Regions from separate parts of the Homo sapiens genome. Here all the other regions are reported to be linked to region 2. Evidence: microRNA targets listed by miRTarBase, many of them from high-throughput screens and not tested one by one. Region 2 holds a microRNA gene; each other region holds the end of a gene's coding sequence.

What was found. Region 2 holds the annotated microRNA hsa-miR-4731-5p (UGCUGGGGGCCACAUGAGUGUG, at 2,427-2,448, shown strand). A microRNA usually pairs through its seed, bases 2 to 8, with sites in the 3' UTR of a target mRNA and lowers its output. Matches are read on the target gene's strand: a 7mer-m8 pairs with bases 2 to 8, a 7mer-A1 pairs with bases 2 to 7 and ends in A, and an 8mer does both.
Region 1: the mRNA of SLC35F6 is a reported target of hsa-miR-4731-5p. Seed matches in the 3' UTR shown: 7mer-A1 at 5,821-5,827 and 8mer at 5,736-5,743.
Region 3: the mRNA of SEC22C is a reported target of hsa-miR-4731-5p. Seed matches in the 3' UTR shown: 7mer-A1 at 2,560-2,566, 7mer-A1 at 2,691-2,697, 7mer-m8 at 2,775-2,781, 7mer-A1 at 2,908-2,914 and 7mer-m8 at 3,163-3,169.

The regions. Positions count from the first base shown.
Region 1 is chr2:26,778,052-26,785,155 of GRCh38, reverse strand. It overlaps SLC35F6 (solute carrier family 35 member F6), which reads right to left. Exons shown (of 6, transcript NM_017877.4): 6 at 3,925-7,104. The coding sequence ends at 6,645. Among named protein-coding and RNA genes, the nearest start is that of CENPA, 4.5 kb to the left of the region's middle. RefSeq lists an enhancer at 1-699.
Region 2 is chr17:15,246,996-15,254,113 of GRCh38, reverse strand. It overlaps MIR4731 (microRNA 4731), which reads left to right and starts at 2,418; the gene lies at 2,418-2,487. All of the region lies in intron 3 of PMP22 (peripheral myelin protein 22), which reads left to right.
Region 3 is chr3:42,547,064-42,554,167 of GRCh38, reverse strand. It overlaps SEC22C (SEC22 homolog C, vesicle trafficking protein), which reads left to right. Exons shown (of 7, transcript NM_032970.4): 7 at 720-6,199. The coding sequence ends at 920. Among named protein-coding and RNA genes, the nearest start is that of VIPR1-AS1, 18 kb to the right of the region's middle.

The DNA.
Region 1 (7,104 bases), not on the chromosome of region 2:
TGATCCAGTAATTCCACTTCTGGCTAAATATCCAAAAGAATTTAAATATAGCCAGGGACTTGAACAGATATTCTCACACCCATGTTGATAGCGGCATTCTTCACAACAGCCCGAAGGCAGAAACAGCCTGAATACACACCAACAGATGAACGGATAAACAAAATGGGGTGTATACCACAATGTTATTCAGCCTTTAAAAGGAAGGGAATTCTGACACCTGCTGCAACATAGATGAACCTTGAGGACGTTATGCTAAGTGAAATAAAGCAGTCCACCAAGGGACAAATGCTGGGCTGGGGTGCGGTGGTTCATGCCTGTAATCCCAGCGCTTTGGGAGGCCAAGTTGTTCGGAACCACTGAGTTCGAGTTCGAGTCCAACCTGGCCAACATGGCGAAACTCCATCTTGCCGAGCGTGGTGGCTCACGCCTGTAAACCCAGCACTCTGGGAGGCCGAGGCAGGCAGATCACCCGAGGTCAGGAGTTCAAGACCAGCATGGCCAACATGGCGATACCCCGTCTCTACTAAAAATATAAAAATTTGCCAGGTGCTGTGGCTCACGCCTGTAATCCCAGCTACTCAGGAGGCTGAGGCAGAGTTGCTTGAACCTGAAAGGCGGAGGTTGCAGTGAGCCGAAATCATGCCACGGCACTCCAGCCTAGGCGACAAGAGTGAGACTCTGTCTCAAAAAAAAAAAAAAAAAAAAAAGAGAAGGGGAAGGAGAAGGAGGAGAAGGAAGAAAGAAACCCCACCTCTACCAAAGATACACACACACACAAATTAGCCCGGGCGTGCAGATGTATGCCTGTCGCCCCAGCTACTCAGGAGGCTGAGGTGGGAGAATCGCTCGAGTCCAGGAGGTTGAGGCTGAACTGAGCCATGATTGTGGCACTGCACTCCAGCCTGGGCGACAGAGTGGCACCTCTCTCAAAAAAAAAGAAAAAAAAAAAGGACAAGGCCGGGTGTGGTGGCTCATGCCTGTATAATCCCAGCACTTTGGGAGGCTGAGGCCAGTGGATCATGAGGTCAGGAGATCGAGACCATCCCGGCTAACCTGGTGAAAACCCGCTTCTACTAAAAATACAAAAAATTAGCCGGGCGTGGTGGCACGGGCCTGTAGTCCCAGCTACTCGGGAGGCTGAGGCAGGAGAATTGCTTGAACCTAGGAGGGGAAGGTTGCAGTGAGCTGAGATTGTGCCACTGCACTCCAGCCTGGGCAATAGAGCAAGACTCTGTCTCCAAAAAAAAAAAAAAAAAAGGACAAATACTGTATGAGGTACCTGGAATAACGGAACTCATAGAGACAGAAAGTAAAATGGTGGTTGCCAGTGAGTAAGGGAGGAATGGGGAGTTAGTATTTAATAGGTGGGGAGTTTTAGTTTGAGAAGATGAAAAATTCTGGATATGGATGGTGGTGATGGTTGCACAACACTGTGAACGTGCTTAACGCCACTGAACTGTACACTTAAAACTGGTTAAAATGGTAAATTCTATGTTGTGTGTGTGTGTGTATATATATATATATATATATTAACCCCGCCCCACAACCGGGTCTTGCACTATTGTCTAGGCTGGAGTATAGTGGTGCAATCACAGCTAACTGCAGCCTTGAACTGCTGGACTCATGCAATCCTCCCACTTCAGCCTCCTGAGTAGCTGGGACTAACAGGAATGTACCATCACACTTGGCTAATTTTTTTTTTTTTTTTTTTTGAGATGGAGTCTTACTTTGTCACCAGGCTGGAGTGCAGTGGTGCGACCACCACTCACTGCAACCTCTGCCTCCCGGGTTCAAGCGATTCCCCTGCCTCAGCCTTCCAAGTAGCTAGGACTACAGGCGTGTGCCACCACGCCCAAAGTGCTGAGATTACAGGCGTGAGCCACCGCACCCTGCCACTTGGCTGATTTTTTAAAAAACATTTTGTGGTGCCATGGTAACTCTGGCTTATCATATAGCCCTTATTATATAGTCATGTATATATAATAAAGGCATTATACAGTTCCCATGCTTAACAATGGGGATATGCTCTGCGAAATGTGTTGTTAGACGATTTTGTCATTGTGCAATCATAAAGTGTACTTACACAAACCTGGATGGTATAGTGTATCACACACCTTGGCTATATGGTATAGCCTATTGCTCCTAGGCGACAAACCTGTGCAGCATGTTCCTGTACTGAATACTGTAGGCAACTGTAATGCAATGGTATTTGTGTATCTAACATATGTAACCTAGAAAAGGCACAGTAAAAAAACAGTATAAAAAATGGGCTGGGTACACTGGCTCACCCCTGTAATCCTAAAATTTTGGAAGGCCAAGGCAGGAGCATTGTTTGAGCCCAGTAGTTCGAGATCAGTCTGGGCAACGTGGTGAGACCCCATCTCCGCAGGAAATAAAAACAATTAGCTGGGCACGGTGGTGCATGCCTGTAGTGCCAGCTACTCGGGAGGCTGAGGCAGGAGGATCACTTGAGCCCAGGAGTTTAAGGCTACAGTGAGATAGGATCATGCCACTGCACCCCAGTGACAGCAACAGATCAAGACTCTGTCTCTAAAAAGAAAAATTTTCCTTCTTCAATAATAAATTAATCTTAGCTTAATGGTAACGTTTTAACTTTATAAGCTTTTGAACTGTAAAATTTGACTCTTGTAATAACACTTAGCTTAAAACACACACTGCAAGTATACAAAAACATTTTTTCTTTATATCTTTTTTTTTTTTTTTTTTTTTTTGAGACGGAGTCTCACTCTGTCGCCCAGGCTAGAGTGCAGTGGCCCGATCTCGGCTCACTGCAAGCTCCGCCTCCCAGGTTCACACCATTCTCCTGCCTCAGCCTCCCAAGTAGCTGGGACTACAGGCCCCCGCCACCATGCCCGGCTAATTTTTTGTACTTTTAGTAGAGACGGGGTTTCACCGTGTTAGCCAGGATGGTCTCGATCTCCTGACCTCGTGATCCACCCACCTCAGCCTCCCAAAGTGCTGGGATTACAGGCGTGAGCCACCGCACCCGGTTTATATCTTTATTTTTAAGCTTTTTTTTCTTTTTTGAGACTGAGTCTCACTGTTGCCCAGGCTGGAGTGCAGTGGCGTGATCTTGGCTCACTGCAAACTCTGCCTCCCGGGTTCAAGTGATTCTCCTGCCTCAGCCTCCTGAGTAGCTGAGATTACAGGCTTGTGCCACCATGCCCAGCTAATTTTTGTATGTTTACTAGAGACAGGGTTTTGCCATGCTGGCCAGGCTGGTCTCGAACTTCTGACCTCAGGTGAACCACCCACCTCGGCCTCCCAAAGTGCTGGGATTACAGGCGTGAGCCACCATGCCTGGCCTCTGGCTGCAGTATCTGTGGCAGAATGGGACAGGCGAGGATTGAGAACCAGGACATCTGGCTTTTGCCTGTTAACTGACTGTGTGACCCTTGGGAAGTTACTTCTGCTTTTTGGGTTTCTTCATTTGAACAATGAATGGAGGACTAGGTAATTGGTATGCTTTTCAAACATTGGAGAGATTTTCCACACCAACATTCTAGAGGCTAGCTCCAGACATCCTCTTGTGCCCCTTCTCTCTCATGAAAAATGTCCAGTACTGCTGATATAGTTTGGATGTGTGTCCCCACCCAAATCTCATATTGAAATGTAATCCCCAATCTTGGAGGTGGGGCCTAGTGGGAGGTGACTGGATCATGGGGGTGCATTTCTCATGAATGGTTTAACAGCATTCCACTTGGTACTGTCCTCTTGAGTGTTCTTGTGAGATCTGGGTGTTTAAAACGTGTGTGGCACCTCCTCCTGCGCCCCCTTGCTCCTACTCTGGCCACATAAGATGTGTCTGCTTCCCCTTTGCCTTTCCACTATGATTGTAAGTTTCCTGAGGCCTCCCCAGAAGCAGAAGCTACTATGCTTCCTGTATAGCCTGCAGAACTGTGAGCCAATTAAACCTCTTTTCTTTATAAATTAAATTACCCAGTCTCAGGTATTTCTTTACAGCAATTCGAGAATGGATTAATACAATTGCCAATTTTCCTTTTCTTTTTTTAAAAAATAAAAGCCAAAATAACACTTTTAAGATCCCAGGTTTTAGACAAGGCAGCTGTAGTCTCTCCATCATCCTCACTGTCCATTTGCTTCTTCCTGGGACAGACACTGTGGCCCAGTGAAGCTGAGGGGACCCTGGGATTCAAAGCTGGTGGAATGGACCCTCCCTCCCCCCACAAGCTGTAATAACCTGCTGGAATCCCACACAACCTGAGGGCTTCACTTGTCAACAGCTCCCTTCCCTCAGAGGCTATTTTGAGGCAGGCATTCGGTGTTTTATGACTGAGCTACCCAGGAGAATGGTTTGAGGCCACACTCAACTGTTCCAAGGAGCAGCACTGGACCAAAGGCTGCTTGGTTCCCTGCGGTTCCTGATGCCACCCCTTCTCTTCAGGGTGGTTACCTAGAAGACAACAGTACATGAGGCTTCCAGCCCAGCCCTAGGAGATCCATCCCAAAGACCCCACAGAGACCTGCATGGGAGGTGGGGCCACAGGTCTGGTATCAGGCAAACCTAGGTTGGAACACTGGCTCCATAAAGAGGAAGTCACTTAACCTTCTCTGGGGCATGGTTTCTTCATCTGTTCCCACCTCTGAAGACTATCGTAAGACAGAATGAAAGTTAAGCAACTTAACGCAACGCCCAGGATACCAGAATTATTCTAAATGGCAGAATCCTACTTAGTCTGTCATCTTGGGAGTTCTCTAGGCAGGCAGGTTGCCAGGGGTGGGGCTGAGATCCAGATGTGCTCTAGGTCCCTGTCTGCTGCAGAATCATGTGGCTGCTGGACCTGGGGGTCCCCCAGGTCCTTGCAGGAGCTGAGGGTAGGAGACTCCATTTGCCAAACAACTTAGAACTTTGGGCCTCAGTTTCCTTGTCTTTAAAAGGAACAGGTAAAGAATTCATAAAAACAATTGACAAGGGCTGCCTGGAATTTCCCTGTAATCTCTTCCAGGCAGAGGAGGCCTCAGAGGTGAGAGTAAGAGCAGGAAAACAGGGACAGGTTTCACTCTGTTGCCCAGGTGTGGTGGCTCAGGTCTGTAATCCCAGCACTTTGGGAGGCTGAGATGGGAGGATCGCTTGAGGCCAGGAGTTTGAGATCAGCCTGGGCAACACAGTGAGACCCATCTCTGCCAAAAAAATAAAACAATAAACCAGGCATGGTGGTACATACCTGTTAGTCTTAGCTACTCGGGAGGCTGAGGCAGGAGGACTGATTGATCCCAGGAGTTCAAGGCTGCAGTAAGCTGTGCCTGGGTGACAGAGCAAGACCCTGTCTCTCAAGAAAAAAAAAAAAAAAAAAAAAAGGCTGGGCGTGGTGGCTCATGCCTGTAACCCCAGCACTTTGGGAGGCTGAGGCAGGTGGATCATGAGGTCAGGAGATTGAGACCATCCTGGCCAACATGGCAAAACCCCGTCTCTATTAAAGAATGCAAAAAATTAGCCGGATGTGGTGGCACACGCCTGTAGTCCCAGCTACTCAGGGGACTTGCTTGAACCTGGGAGCGGGAGGTTGCAGTGAGCCGAGATCACACCACTGCACTCCAGCGTGGCAACAGAGCAAGACTCTGTCTCAAAAAGAAGAAACAAACAAACAACAAAAAAAACAGCACAGAAGGGTGGTGCTGTGGGCAGAGGGGTATTTCCAGTGGATGGGCTGTTACTGTTTTCTCAGGTTGGTCAAGATCACAGGCCCATGGAATGCTGGGGCCAGAAGGCACTAAGGCCACAGCATCAACATCTACTTCCCAGAGCATAACACCAAGGCCCAGAGCAACTGGGTAATGTGCTGGGAGCTACAATGAGTTTGAGGCAGAGTCTGGGCTAAAACCCATGTCTCCAGACGGGTTTAGGGAGGATCTTAGAAGTTTTAGAAAACATAATGCTTAGTTATGGCTGGGTGTGGTGTCTCACGCCTGTAATCCCAGCACTTTGGGAGGCCGAGGCAGGCAGATCACCTGAGGTCAGGAGTTTGAGACCAGCCTGGCCAACATGGTGAAACCCCATCTCTATAAAAGTTACCCAGGTGTGTTATGCACCTGTAATCCCAGCTACTCGGGAGGCTGAGGCAGGAGAATCATTTGAACCTGGGAGGCAGAGGTTGTAGTGAGCCGCCGAGATCGTGCCACTGCACTCCAGCCTGGGCGACAGAGCGAGACTCTGTCTCAAAAAAAAAAAAAGAAAATATAATGCTTAGTTCTGGTTTAAATTTGCTCACTGACTTTTCTTCTTTGAAGAATCAAATCTAGCTTATGACTCATAAACTAGATAACTATGATAATCTAGTTTATGATTCAGATACACTACGGTGGTAAATTCCTACAATTCAACTTCATGATTTAGCTCTAGTGCTGTAGGAGGGGTCCAGAGAGCTGAGGTCTGCCACTGCACTCAGGCTTGTGGGGGCTGGGTAACACCACCCTGCAGGTGGTAGTGAGAAAAAGAGGACTTGGGTGTTGTTATCTTCTGTGGCAGCAGCTGCCCTGGGGGTTCTGCAGGGAGGGGACAGGGTGAGGCCTTGGGGATAGGGCATTCGGGGCCCACCAGCCTGTGTGGCCTCAGTCTCAGGGAGAAGGAGCACCCGGGTGGCAGTAGAAGCCTCCAGGGAACCTCAGCTGGCATCATTGATGGGAGTGCGGGTGCCACCCAGCAGTCTCTCCTGCTCGCTCTCCTCTGCCAGGGGCCGGCCCCTGGACAGGCGGCCCAGCAGCGGACGGTGTAGCCCATTGTAGAGGGCAGTGCCTATAAGGAGTATGAGGAAGCCAAGGATCTGCAGTGCATGGAAGGCCTCCCAGCCCAGTGCCAGGCTCAGTGCCCAGATGACAACGGTGCGCAAGCTGTCCAACACCATGCGGGTGGTGGCGCTCAGTTCCTTGGTGACGCTGATGCCTGCGAAGTTGAAGAAGGCAATGCTGCTGATGTTGCCCAGCAGTGCCACGGCAATGAGCGGCTGCTGGCCCACCTGGCAGAAGGCGTCCAATGCATCCTCCAGTGTCCCACGAGGGTTTCCGCTGAAGGAGCCGGCGGGGATGTAGTACATGGGCACCAGCAGCAGGGAGAGGATCACAAAG
Region 2 (7,118 bases):
GTTAAGTCTCACCTCCCATCTCTCTTCCCCTCATCTTGGAATTTCAGCGTTTTCTCACGTCCTGAAATGTGAACTTCCCACTTCGGGAGTCTCTCCATTTCTCTTCTGATCTTTCATGCAGGACTATTTCTTGAACAACTCTCGTGTACCAGAGACTATTGCAGGTGCTAAGGTTACAAGAGTGAACAAGAGCTTATGTTTTACTGGACAAACCAGTCAGTAAACATGGAGAATTTGGGGGCAATGGTAAGAACTATATAAGACAGGGTAATGGGATAAAGAGGGATTGCAGTGGTGAAGGAAGGTCTCCTTGAGGAGTGGCCAGGAGCCAGCCATATGAACATCTCGGGGAGGTTCCATACAGAAGGACCGTCAAGTGCAAGATCGCTGGGGAGGGAAGGAGCTTGGCGTAGTTGAGGGACAGAGGGCAGGGCAGACTAGTGGGAACAGAGAGTGAGGGGTAAGTAGAATCACAGACCATCTCAAAGGTACCCCCCACCCCCACTAGGAAGGAGTTGGGTGCACATGGATGCATTTCTAATCTTTGTGATTTCCTTAGACCTGCTGTCTTCCACGGGTTTCTCAGTGGTCCATTTGATTCCAAGTTGGAGTGACAGTCCAGAAGCCTCTATAAGGCAGAATATATCAGAAATTGTACAAGGTAGAAATGCATCGGTATATTTTCAGTGATTATTTTGGGTGACGGGATTCTTATCACTTTGGCTGTTTTCTTTCTTTTGCTGCCTTACCTGTTTTCCTCATTGAGATCTTTTATTTTCACAATCAGAAAATAACTGTGAACATTTTATGTTAGAAAATTGGTTTTGAGTAGTAAGTAGGTTCCCTCTGCCTTGATTAAGAGAGTGGAGCCCTGGGGCATGGCACGCAGGGTCCATGGCGTCGCTTTGAATGAGGCCAGTTCCTGGAGCTTTAGTTTGCAAACTCATACAATCTGGAAGGCTCTGGTGAGGGGGAGGGGTGTGCCAAGCCTCCTCCCCAAGACCCTATGGGTGAGTTTAAAATCTACTGACCCAAAGGATTCAGGCAAAACATTTGCCCTGCTATTGAATGAACCAGTGCTTTTTGTTTTGAAGTCTCCAAGATCCAAATATCAAGTCCAAGTTCTCACAAGCATTCCCCTGCTTTTTGTTTAATTTGTGTGGACCTGACGTGTAGCAGAATGGGTCAGAATACTGGAATTAAGCCACAGGCGGCTTGGGAGCCCAAGAGCTAGAAGGGCACAGTCCTGGCTTGCCCTGGCCCCTGGCTGGTCTTCATCAGCTTCAGTGATGAGGCAGGACCCAGGCAGTTTGTCTTCAGTAAAATCTGTCTCTCAGGGCCTGTCCCTGCTCACAAAGTCCTCTCTTGTCTCAGAAGAAAAGGTAGTTGATAAACTTTTTCATGCTGAGGTGTTAGGCACAAAAAATGTGCCCCTTTTTGAATCACTTTTGTTTTTAAAAAGGAGGCCAGTGCTCAACACCAAAGCATGAAGGGAATTGTTGAGCTTTCCTGTAATCTGTCCCCAAACGTCCTTGGCCACCTCCATTGTCTAAGGGCAGTACCTGCAGCCCCTCATTTCCCAGTGACAACAGGTGGGTCTGCTCTGCCACAGTGTGTGGGCGGGACCAGCACCAGACGCTGAGAAGATGACCACTTACTACTCTTCTTTTCCATTTAAACAGCAGCAGCAGCAGCAGCAGCAGCAGCAGCAGCAGCAACAGCAAACTCATGACTATCAATAGGTTGTGTGAGGAATTAGATCAATGCTTTGGGTTGAAAATTAGAGAAACTAAATCTTGCCAGTCTCAGCAGCCCCCAACCTGAGCCCTTGGTGGTCTCCTATCATCGCTGTCTTCAAAACGATCCCAGACTTGTTTATCAATTTGGTGACACTGTCATTTTGGCAAGGACACCAGACAATTTCCTTGTCTGTGGCTCAGCTTTTGGCCAGATTTTAGAAAACACGGGAGACCTTCTGCATTTATGGGTTCATGTTTTACATTTTAAAATCTTCGTGGCTCCCTCAGCCAACCCATAATCTCTACCCAAGGAATGGCTCTGGATTTTACAGGCTCTTATGAGATGCTGAGACCCTGGTGGTACAAGGGAGGTACAGAGGACGGAATGTGTTGTCAACATGCCAGGATTTCAACCCTTAGGGTTTCTCTGATGCCAATACCCAGGAATTAGTATGAAATGTTTGTTTGAACCTGTGTCTGAACTGTATGACCTGGAATCTATAGTCTTTGCTTTAAAAAAACTTCAATTGTATCCCCAAGATTTCACCAGCACCAAGAAAACATCCCTTGCATTTCAGGAGCAGGGACTGGCCATGGTGCAGCCTGAGGTTGTGGATGTTGATCTTTGGTGCCCGAGAGAAGGCTGTCTGGGATGAAGCCTTCTGACTGTGGTCAGGTCCCTGCCAGTGCTGGGGGCCACATGAGTGTGCAGTCATCCACACACAAGTGGCCCCCAACACTGGCAGGGACCCGGAGTCATCTGGCCCATCCCTCCTTCCTATCCCATCGAGCCACAGACCCCTCTGCAATATGCCTACCACATGTTCATCCTACCACTGATGGGGAACTTATTACCTTCAAGAGAGCCTCTTTTGTTTTTGAAGAGCTAATAGTGAGATCCATTCATGTGTTCTTCAACTCTATTGAGCCTGTCCTATGTACTGGGCACTGTTCTAGAAATGGGGTGCACAGAGATGAACAAGAAAGAGCAGGTCCCTGCCATTGTGCAGCTCACAAGGAGTTGGAGGAAACAGGCAATACACAATACATGCATCACTATGGGTAGTGGAACATGCTCTGCAGGAAACAAATAGGGTGATCCAATGGAAAGTCATCACTGGAGGAATGAGCTGCTCAGGGAAGGCCTCTTCCTTCCATAGTGATGTGGTCTGAGATTTAGAAGACAGGGAAGGACCAGTTATAGGAAGAACCATGGGAAGAAAATTCTAGGAGGTAAAGGGAAGAACCAAGGCCCTGAGTTAGCTGAAGAAAGGAGGGTGGGGAATGCGGGAGAGAGGGATGGGAGCAGGATCGCTGGTGCCTCACAGGCTGTGGTACTGAGAAGGACAGTTGGGACATCATTGAAGGGTTTTAAGCAGAAGAGTGTCATGATTTGATTCATGTTTTGTAAGCTCATTCTGGCTGTTGAGAATGAATTCTGGGGAGAGGCAAGAGTGGAAACTGGGGACCAGTGAGGAGTTTGTGGTCATAGTCCAGACTGGACATGATGATGACACTGAGATGACAATGATGACAATGACAATGATGTTAAGAATACAAACAGCTCACGTAAGTGCCAGGCATTCTTTGAAAAGCAATGCATTTAATCCTCACAAGAACTCTAGGAGGTAGCTGGTGGCTTAGCTAGGGAGGGGAAGTAGAGAAGAAAACAGGTCTCATGACAGGGTTTGCTGATGGGTTAGATGTAGGGAGTTAGGGAAGAATGATTCTAGATGACTCTACGTTTTGGGCTTGAGCAACTGGTGTGTAACTGAATCTTGGACTGAGATGGGGAGACTGGAGGAGGAACAGAAGATTTGCGGGAAGGTGTAGAAATCAGGATTTATATTTTGACCATCAGAGAGGTCAGCAAATCACTTCAATTTAGAAGTCTTTGGCTTAGGGGAGAGGTCTGGGCTGGAAATTCAAAGTCAAGAGTCATTCCTCTATACCGAAGGGTATTCAATGTTGTGGTGCTGAATACAGTTACTTGGGGAGGAGTTGAGAGCAGAAGGCAGAAAAGGGGAACAGGGTTCAGAGCTAAGTCTTGGGCATGCCAGGGGTTAACGAGGGTACAGGAAGGAGAGGAGACTGGGGATGAACAGCCAGTGATGAGGGAGGAATGCCAGGAGATATTGTCACTTAAGAAATTACCTCGGCTGGGCGCGGTGGCTCACGCCTATAATCCCAGCACTTTGGGAGGCTGAGGCGGGCGGATTACAAGGTCAGGAGATTGAGACCATCCTGGCTAACACGGTGAAACCCTGTCTCTACTAAAAATACAAAACAAAATTAGCCGGGCGTGGTGGCCGGTGCCTGTAGTCCCAGCTACTCGGGAGGCTGAGGCAGGAGAATGGCGTGAACCCGGGAGGCGGAGCTTGCAGTGAGCCGAGATCGCACCACTGCACGCCAGCCTGAGCGACAGAGTGAGACTCCGTCTCAAAAAAAGAAATTACCTTGTTAAACCCAACACTGCCCCTCTTTTGTCCATTCACTTCTAGTTGCCTTCATTCATGCCTGATGTGCTGGACTTGGGTTTTATCAAGTTGCTTGGCACGTCCTTAAAGAATTTAAATCTCCACAGTGCCTCCTGGACAATGACTGCAGGGTGACCCCCGTCTCTCCTCTACACGATGACTCTTCAAACAGTTGACGATTGCAGTTTTTCTTTCCTTCCTTCTTTCAGTGGCTTCTCTGGTGCTGGTCCCAGCTGCATAAGCAGGGCCTCTTCTTGCCCTTCTGAAGTTTGGTCAGTGGTTTGGCTTGGCAGGCTGATGAGCAGAGAATAAGGGAAGCCGCTCTCTCTTTGCCACACCATTCTCCTTCCACCCTCTCTAGTTTTTGTGGATTCTAAGTCTGAAGAATGGTGGTAGAATAATTTAATTCATTAGATTGCAAGCATATCATTGACTTCTCTGCACCCCCAGTGTGTTGTAGTGGAAAAACTAGTAGTCTGGGCATCAGGGAATCCTTGTTTTTCTGCACCGGGTCTGCCTGTAACAAATTAGGTAACCTGGGGCAGGTACCCTGGTTTCCTAAAAGCAGAGCAGGCATTGAGGTAGGACCTGAAGTTGAGGTAGGACCTGCACATTGCATGGGTCCCGGAGCCTCTGTTCATGTTCAGGATGTAATTGTGGCATCGAGGGATCCTAAAAGGAGGTGGCCTCTGAGCTGGGCCTTGGCAATGGGGTAGAATTGCAGTAGGCAGAGGGAGCAGAGATGGGTTTTGTGCTTGTAAACGGGCATTGGTTTACTGTCACTGGTGGGGGTAGCAGCTCTTTTGTTCTAGCTCTTCATTTCCATAATGCGTGTTCTTTTTTCATACTTTAGGGGAAAGAAGGAGGAGAACTCTATTATTTCTATGGGGAGAATTCCTCCTAAACCTGAAGATCTTAAAACTAAGCGAATTATTCCCTGTTCATTCTCCACTGATGCAGTTCATGACTGCAATTGCAACTGCCTTTCCCGTCATTTTCTATGGCCAAACTCAGTGTTTTTAAGTGAGCTCTTCTTTTAAAAAACAAAAACAAAAACAAGTCTCCTGATAAATCCGTTTGAAAGACACTAAGTTTTGAAAGTTAAGCAGGCTTTGATCATTCATGGTACATTGTGAATTACCAAGGAGGGAGATTGATATCCTTCATCGTACAATGCACTCCCCTCCTTTTTCTTTTGTATCTGGTGGAGTAAGTCTTCCAAGAGCAATTCTTAGAGAAACAAAGCCTACTCTGTTTCCCTGTTTCTAGAGTTTTCCAACAAGGGTATAAAAAAGCCTCAGACAGCTTACTATTATCCAGTAACCTCAGGTACCTCAGTGGCTGCGTGTTATTCCCTTTAGAAGTCCAAAAACTCACTAGCAGAGCAAGAATATGGATGTCAAAGTGCAGAACTAGACCCTGACAAACTAGCTCTGTGCCTGCCACAAAGCCTCTTAATTAGGAATGCAGTTCATTGAATAACTGTATCAAAGTTAGCTGGAATACCTTGACATGAAGATTCCTTCCACTTACTGAGCAGTTTGTGCCCACTAGTGGCCAGACACAGGCTTTGCTCTAGCTAAAATACCCCCAGGATTACCTGTTGAGAGAGCCGCCCACGTCACCTTCATCGCCTTTGTGAGCTCCATGCTGGCACATAGTTGTCTCCATCTGTTTTGCTTTCCGCATGAATCATAGGCAAAGTTAGCCTGACCAGCAAGCCCATTTCAAAGCCACCAGCTGGGGGAGAAGTTGAAGCCCAGGGGGCAAGACCCACGCTGGGCTTTGGGCATGTTTGAGCTGGTGGGCGAAGCATATGGGCAAAGGCCACATTGTTTAGGATGGAGGCCTTTCAGAGACTCAGCTATTTCTGGAATGACATTCATACTGAGAAATAAGGAAAATGGCGATCTGTGTGATGGTTGTGGGTTGGGAGGTTTGGGCGTGGGAGTCCTGGTCTTGGGGTCATGTGTTTTGAAAACAGTCTAGCACTATGCAAATGGGAGGTGTTAATAACTCTTTGCCTCTGTGATTTACCCTCTCATGGCTTTTTCTCTCTTGGCCTCTCCAAGGTCTCTTCTGACTCTTGCAACTGTCCTTCCTTTCACTTTCAACAAAACCTGTTCTCTTGAGTCAGAACAGTTTTATGAATTGCCCAGAGTGGGACTTGATATGGGGCAGGGTTGGTTCCATGCTGGTAATGAAAGATGCACATAAACTGTTACATTGAAAAGTGCTTCATACTTTCTGAGCCCTTAACTCACTAGGTTGTAGGCCCTGGGCTAAGAATATAGCTGAGGGGGCTGATGTATTTCCTTCATTGCTCAGCTGCTCCTACAGCAGGAATCTGACCTTGAAATGAGCTTTGATCTTTGTGCAACTCGAGCTTCCCACTATCTGCTGGGGGAGCTAGGTCTGGGTGCTGCCACGGCCCATGTCAGAAAGCTGTCAGCAGCTCTTATACCGGACACTCTCAGAACAGGAGGCCTGCAAAGAGCTTTAGCTTTAGTTTTGTTGTTGTTGTTGTTTTTGAGACAGTCTCGCTCTGTCGCCCAGGCTGGAGTGCAGTGGCGCCATCTCGGCTCACTGCAAGCTCCACCTCCCGGGTTCACACCATTCTCCTGCCTCAGCCTCCCAAGTAGTTGGGACTACAGGTGCCCGCCACCACGCCCAGCTAATTTTTTGTATTTTTAGTAGAGACGAGGTTTCACCGTGTTAGCCAGGATGGTCTCAATCTCCTGACCTCGTGATCCACCCGCCTTGGCCTCCCAAAGTGCTGGGATTACAGGTGTGAGCCACGGCGCCCGGCCTTTTTTTTTTTTTTTTTTTTGAGACGAGTCTTGCTCTGTTTCCAGGCTGGAGTGCAGTGGTGTGATCTCGGCTCACTGCAGTCTCCGCCTTC
Region 3 (7,104 bases), not on the chromosome of region 2:
CTCCCTCCCTCTGTAGATTGAACCTTTGTCAGATTGATCCATGTTCAGTGATGTCCTTTTTTTAAAAAAAAAAAACAAAGCATTGAACCAAAATGCCGTTTCCACCTTTTGCAGAACAAGAATGGCCCCTTTTATGTGTGATAGTCATACACAAAATACCAGTCACTCTCCCTGCTGTGAGACCTTTCCCTGACTCAGAGATGCTTTGGAAGACATGATAAGGAGGGTGCCCAAGGGAAGAGTGGTGCTCAATGTAGTCGTGGCTCAGGAGAAACCAAAATAGTAAAAGCATGGCTTTCTCTCACCAGCTTGCTTGCCTGTCCTGGCTCCCTGAAGAAAAACTTCACTGGGGGGCCAGTCAGTCACGTTAGGGTCCCCTGTCTGCAGCCTGGCTGTCTGCAGCTTATGTGCAGCTCTTCTTTCTCTACTGCCAACAGCCTGGTCATTTCTGTCTATTTCTTTAACTTCTTTCAGATGTGCCATGCACTGATTCTTCCTGTGACATCTATTTCACTTTCCTTTAATCTTCCAAATCCTCACTTTCGTCCAATAATTAGCAGCCTAACCAGTGGGTCCACGCTTTACTGTAATGAATTCAGTTTAATCAGCTAATGTGAGAGAAATGACACTCTTCATGGAAGCTGTGGGAGGTGAATTTTGCATATGATCTAGTGGCCATTTTATCTCTGATTGGAATTCCTCTTCTGGTCTCATTTCAGTGTTATTTGTACCTGTTCTACAGTCCAGCCAGGACTATGAAGGTGGTGCTTATGCTGCTCTTTATTTGCCTGGGCAACATGTACCTGCACGGGCTGAGGAACCTCTGGCAAATCCTTTTCCACATAGGAGTGGCTTTTCTGTCTTCATATCAGATACTAACAAGGCAGCTTCAGGAGAAGCAGTCTGACTGTGGAGTATGAGGATGACACTGTGATGAATGGATTCTTTGATTTTCTTTTGAGGATCAATCTATGTTTCTCTTTCTGCTTCTCTACTTTACACTCCAGTTTCCATCCTTTTCAGCCAACTGGACTGAAAAACCAGGAATTGGGGATGTTAAACAGTTGCAGTGGAAGTCATGAGGTTGCTTGATACCCAGCCTTGGTTCTGTGCCAAGCATTACTGCAGGATCTCCAGCCAGTTCAGCACGTTTACCTAGGACAGCTGGATCTGGGGGCTCATCCAGAAAGAGCTTTATTGGAAGAGAGAAAGGAAATATTTTGGTCTTTTAAGTTGAATGATACAGTAAACCACTTGATTCAATAACACTGGTTTTAGTCATTGAGAGTTGTCTCCAAGGAACCACTTTAAAATCCAAATCAGCTTTCAGTCTAAACATAACTTGATTAGTTTTTTTTTTCAGAGGGTCAGTACAGGATGAATTAAAAACCTAAAAATATGGTTCATAAATGTAAGCTAGATAAATTTTGTTTACATTTTTTCAATATCTTAGGTTCGATATACCTTTGGAATATTTAATTATATTTTGGATATAAATTGGACTTCATTTAGGGTGAGGGCAAACTTAAGCTGAGAAAATGGTTAAGAAATCTGAGTTTATTTAATTTATATGTAACCTTTTATAGTGGTGGGACTGTTTGGGTACAGAGATGTTTTATATTTATTTGCAGGGTATATCCGAATATTTTAAAAATTAATTGAATAACCAGTACTTCTAGATGATAAGTTTGTCAGCATGAGCAGAAATGAGAATTTCAGGATTACTTACAATTGACCACAACCTGGAGTAGGTGAATGAACATGGATTCAGTGGCACTTTACAGATCCGCTTGGGAGGGGCTGCTGTCATCAGCCTTTTCAGTAGAGCTGAGTGCCTGTTGTTTTAATGATGATGACTACTGTACCCTGTGTACCTGTTCCCAGAGCGCCTCCAAAATTAATTACTCCTCTGCACCTTTCCCAGTCATCTTAATTAGCTTGAGGGCCTCATTTTTTATGAACAAGAGTTAAGTATCTGTTAACTTTTTAAAGCTTGATAGAGATATAATTAACACATACTCTGGAAAGTTACTCTCTTTCACTGTCAAAAAATTGATTGATCACAGTTTTCCAAAATATGGTTCTGGATAAGATCCCTTAGGTTTCCCGAAATTTCAGCCTGGCTTGTTTTGTACCACGCAGGAGGTCATTTTGGGAGTTTGCTCTTTGGATTGTTCTTGGTAGAAGTCTGGAATCTGAATAGTTCAACCACAGTTGCATGGAACACTTTGAGTGTTCAACTGCATTATGTGGTCTTGATAAATTTTTAAAAATCCTATTTTGATAGTTTTTAAAAGTGGAAAACCATTACAAGAGTTGAGTGGATAGGGAATGTAAGAATGTAGTTTTAGAAAAATTCAATTATATTTGGTTATCACTGGTATTGTATTGTTATTGAGCTACCTTGTTATCATTTTAAGAAAAATAAGTTTATATACTGGGAACTATGTTGGGAAAATGTTGCCATAGTAACTTTATTTTTTATAATAGAATTTTCTATTTTTGACCAAACATAAAATATTTGGATATGGGCCAGGCATGATGGCTCATGCCTGTATTCCCAGCACTTTGGAAGGCCAAAGCAGGAGACTCGGTTGAGGCCAGTAGTTTGAGACCAGCCTGGACAACATAGTAAGATTCATCTCTACAAAAAAAAAAATTAGCCGGATGTGATGGCACATGCCTGTAATCCCAGCACTTTGGGAGTCTGAGGCAGGAGGATCCCTTGAGTCCAGGAGTTTGAGGCTTCCATGAGCTATAATCACACCACTGCACCCCAGCCTGCATGACAGAGTGAAACCCTGTCTCTAAAAAGTCTGAATATGAAAATTATATTGGCAGCATACTCAGACATAAACTCCAAAGTTGTCTCTACACTGATTTCACATCTGCATAATTTTCTGCATACCCAGCAGGTGAATTTTCAGTTTTTCTGGGAGACAATTTTGAAGAGATGGTGAAATAGAATGGGAAGTTAAGGAGGGGAGGTAAAATGTTTTAAATGAGAAGAACAAAAAAGCTTTAAAAGTCAATAACACTTTGGGAAGCTGAGGTGGGCAGATCACGAGGTCAAGAGATCGAGACCATCCTGGCTAACATGGTGAAACCCCATCTCTACTAAAAATACAAAAATTAGCTGGGCACGGTGGCTTGTGCCTGTAGCCCCAGCTACTCAGGAGGCTGAGGCAGGAGAATCTCTTGAACCCGGGAGGTGGAGGTTGCAGTGAGCCGAGATCGAGCCACTGCACTCCAGCCTGGTGACAAAGCAAGACTCCGTCTCAAAAAAAAAAAAAAAAAAAGTCGGTAAGAACGGCTTAAAAATGGACTGTTTTCTTTTCCTATGTGGCATTGGGTTGCCATGTAGACCTGTACCCCAGGTGCTTTGGGCATCTGAGCCTATGATCCATATTCAGCAGGCAGTAAAGAAACGGTCCTTGAAGATGAGTCCTTCCTGGTAATGCTTCCTGACCACCGAGGCACTACCAGAGATGTTATCCACACCAGGTCGAATGTGTGGATATCAGTTAACATCTACATGGGGTGAGATTGACTTTTGCAAACAAAAGGGAAAAGATGCACTAGAAAAACAGTACAAGTAATGACCACAAAAACATTGTTTGACTGAAATCCAGCTAGCTAAAAGAATCCTCAGCTCACTGAAGGAAGAGACTGAAAATAGGAAAGAAGTTCTGGTGATTTCATCCGAGGGAAATCCCCAGGCTTAGGTTTGACTTGGTTCAGGGTTGGAGGTTTATAGCCTCTTGTGTGATCCTTGATACCAGCAAACTGGTTCCAAATCCCAGGAGTTATCCTCACTCCACCATGGACTCACTGTTGTTGTAGCACTTTTGTTTTCCCAGTAGTTAAATGCTACCTGTGCAGCTGACATCACTGGACTAGATCTGGGAATAGATGAAATAATGTTGAAAACAAAACTTTAGAGGTGCCTTCTGGTATCAGATGCTGCAAGGCCTTGAGCATCAGAGTGTGTTAAGTCCCATCTACTGTATCAAGGCCAGAGTGTGGCTCCATGCTCTTAGGAAGGGTTTCCCAACCACGGGGCCAGAGCCCAAAAGGTTTCCCCTTCCCTAATATGCTAATGAACGAAACATGTAAATCTGTTTTCCCCTGTTAGGCTAGTCTTACTGTGATGAGAAGTGTACCTGGCTTTCCTTTTCCTGGGTGGAGACAGCTGGGGCATATTCGGGTGGCATTCCCTCTCAGTACCAGAGGCCCCACTGCCTGCAGCTGGAGGCATGTGACCATAAGCTCCTGCTTTTGCTTTTTGGGCTTGCATCCCTCTTTTCTGTGAACTCTGGAGAATGCTGGAATTAAAACATTTAAGCATTTTGATTAAATGAGCTTGAGCTCCTCTGTTCTTTTCTAGGTGCTCTTGTTCTCCAACTCTCCTGCCTCTTTCTACCTCTGCCCTATACATTCCAGCTCTGGAGACAGAGTCTGAAACTGGAGTCTCTGGAGGGATGAGAAAACCATCTTTAATTGTAACAAATGGGGTGGGTAGACGAGCTTCAGAGTGGGAGCAGATTGCATTGAGGTTCAACTCTCCCACCCATGCCTGGGAGTCAAGTCTTGGAGAGGAGTAACACTTGGTGGTCAGCACAGCTCAGAGTCAGAGACAATAGCCAGCAGGCCAGCAAGGCTGGCTGTGTGAGGCACAGGAAGCAGGGCATAGGTAGGGAGCAGAGCTGGGGGTTCTCTCTCTGCTGGAAGATAGCAGCTGCCCCTTGGCATATGGGGGTTGCACACTGCACCTTGTAGCCAGGGCTGCTATTTGCTGTTCTGTGAAGGAGTTGGCCACTCATTGTGACATGCAGGACAGTGGCCTTCTGAGAACCTGCTGCTTGCTTGCATAGTGCAGCACAAGTGAGGACAGGCAGGGGTGGGAGCATTTATGGTGATCAGATGTGCCTGGCAAGCCCCTGTTCAGACATTGCTCACATTCCAAATGTTTTCGTGTAGAATATTGCACAGGTCTGGGGACGCTCTACCTGTGCCCTGTGAGTGTTAATAATGGTGGAGAAAGAGTGTAGCTGTGCCCTTGAGAGAGAAGGTGAGGGAAAGAGTGCACCAGTCAGCTGACCGTCAGCTGGCTAGGCTCTTCACTGAGTCCTATGTCGCAGTGCACAAATCACTGCCCATCAGGCCTCAGTTTCCTCATCTGGTAAATGGTGATAACATCAATCTGCCCCCCCGCCAGGGTGCTGTTATGAGGGTCAAAAGTGGTAGTGGAGGGTAATACTGGGTGAGTCCATTGTGTGTGGGAGGAGAAAGGCTTTACATTCACCTGGTACATGAAGGTTTTTCTGCTTCAGGCAGCACAGCACAGCCATTTCTTCTGGCCTTTACAAAAAGGCATTTTGTTATACTACAGTGTAAACCTCATTTTTTTCACTCCAAAAGGTAGCAGCCCCTCTTCTTCCCACCCTGGACCTGCCTTTCACTCCCTGGGCACAGAGCGCATGGTACCATTGATGTTTGGTTTATTCCAGGATCCAAGGAGCTGGTTCTGCTGGTTGGACCAAACCTCGTGAGCCAGCCACCCCTGACCCAAATGAGGAGAGCTCTGATTCTCCCATCCGGGAGCAGTGATGTCAAACTTCTGCTGCTGGGGAAATCTCATCAGCAGGGAGCCTGTGGAAAAGGGCATGTCAGTGAAATCTGGGAATGGCTGGATTCGGAAACATCTGCCCATGTGTATTGATGGCAGAGCTGTTGCCCACAAGCGCCTTTTATTTAGGGTAAAATTAACAAATCCATTCTATTCCTCTGACCCATGCTTAGTACATATGACCTTTAACCCTTACATTTATATGATTCTGGGGTTGCTTCAGAAGTGTTATTTCATGAATCATTCATATGATTTGATCCCCCAGGATTCTATTTTGTTTAATGGGCTTTTCTACTAAAAGCATAAAATACTGAGGCTGATTTAGTCAGGGCAAAACCATTTACTTTACATATTCGTTTTCAATACTTGCTGTTCATGTTACACAAGCTTCTTACGGTTTTCTTGTAACAATAAATATTTTGAGTAAATAATGGGTACATTTTAACAAACTCAGTAGTACAACCTAAACTTGTATAAAAGTGTGTAAAAATGTATAGCCATTTATATCCTATGTATAAATTAAATGAGGTGGCTTCAGAAATGGCAGAATAAATCTAAAGTGTTTATTAACATGTGTCTTTGCACTTATGTGAAAAATTCCGAGTTATGGATCCTTTGCTAGACAGTGTGATGTGGGCCTGACATAATGGGAGGGGGTTGTTGAAAGAAGTGAAAGTCAGGTCATCTTGTCCAGTGAGGCCTAGACAGGCGCAAGGGCTCAAATAGTCTTTAGTACTAACCCCCAACCAAAATAGCAGTCACAACAATGCCCTGGGGGCTGGGAGGCCTCCCCAGTTTGCAGGCTCTGCCCCTGCCCTGCTATGTGCAGCAGGCACTTTCCGTGCTCCGCGTTTTGGGCTCTTGTCTACTGTGAAGGTGAAGTTTCATCTCCCAGGACCAGCCTGACCACAGAATGGCCACCAGGGGGCGCAGCTGCCGGCCACCTCCTCAGGTTTCCAGCCAAGGGAAGGTGGCCTTTAGCAAAGGCTGTTCCTATAGCAGCTAATAAAATTCCCAGAAAGAAAGCAAATGCACTATCCTCTCCTGACCATCCTCTAAACACATTGGGGAATTCACTCTCCAAGAGTCTCTGCACCATCTGTCCTGAATCAGAATCTTTTGGAGGAAGGCAGTGACTTCCAAAATAAACATCTGAGTTATTGGGTGCTGGGATTTGGTAGTTGATAGTTTTCAGACACCATCTGCTTTAACCACTTTTTTGCTCAGGTTGAGAAGCTGAGGCTTGTTCTAGGGAGCCAGTGACAGTAAAGTTTGGAGCTCTGTTTCCCCTGAGGAGGAAACAAGTGGCTGTCCCCCACTTGGCAATACCCACAAAGAATAAAAGATGTTCCTTCTATGCCAGGAGGGCTGGATGAGAAGTTCTGGCTGGTGAGTTGCCTTCTTTTTTCTTGGGGCCTACCCCTTGAAGGGGCCCAGGTAGCAGAAGTGCTACCTGACAGCTGCCAAGCATCTTT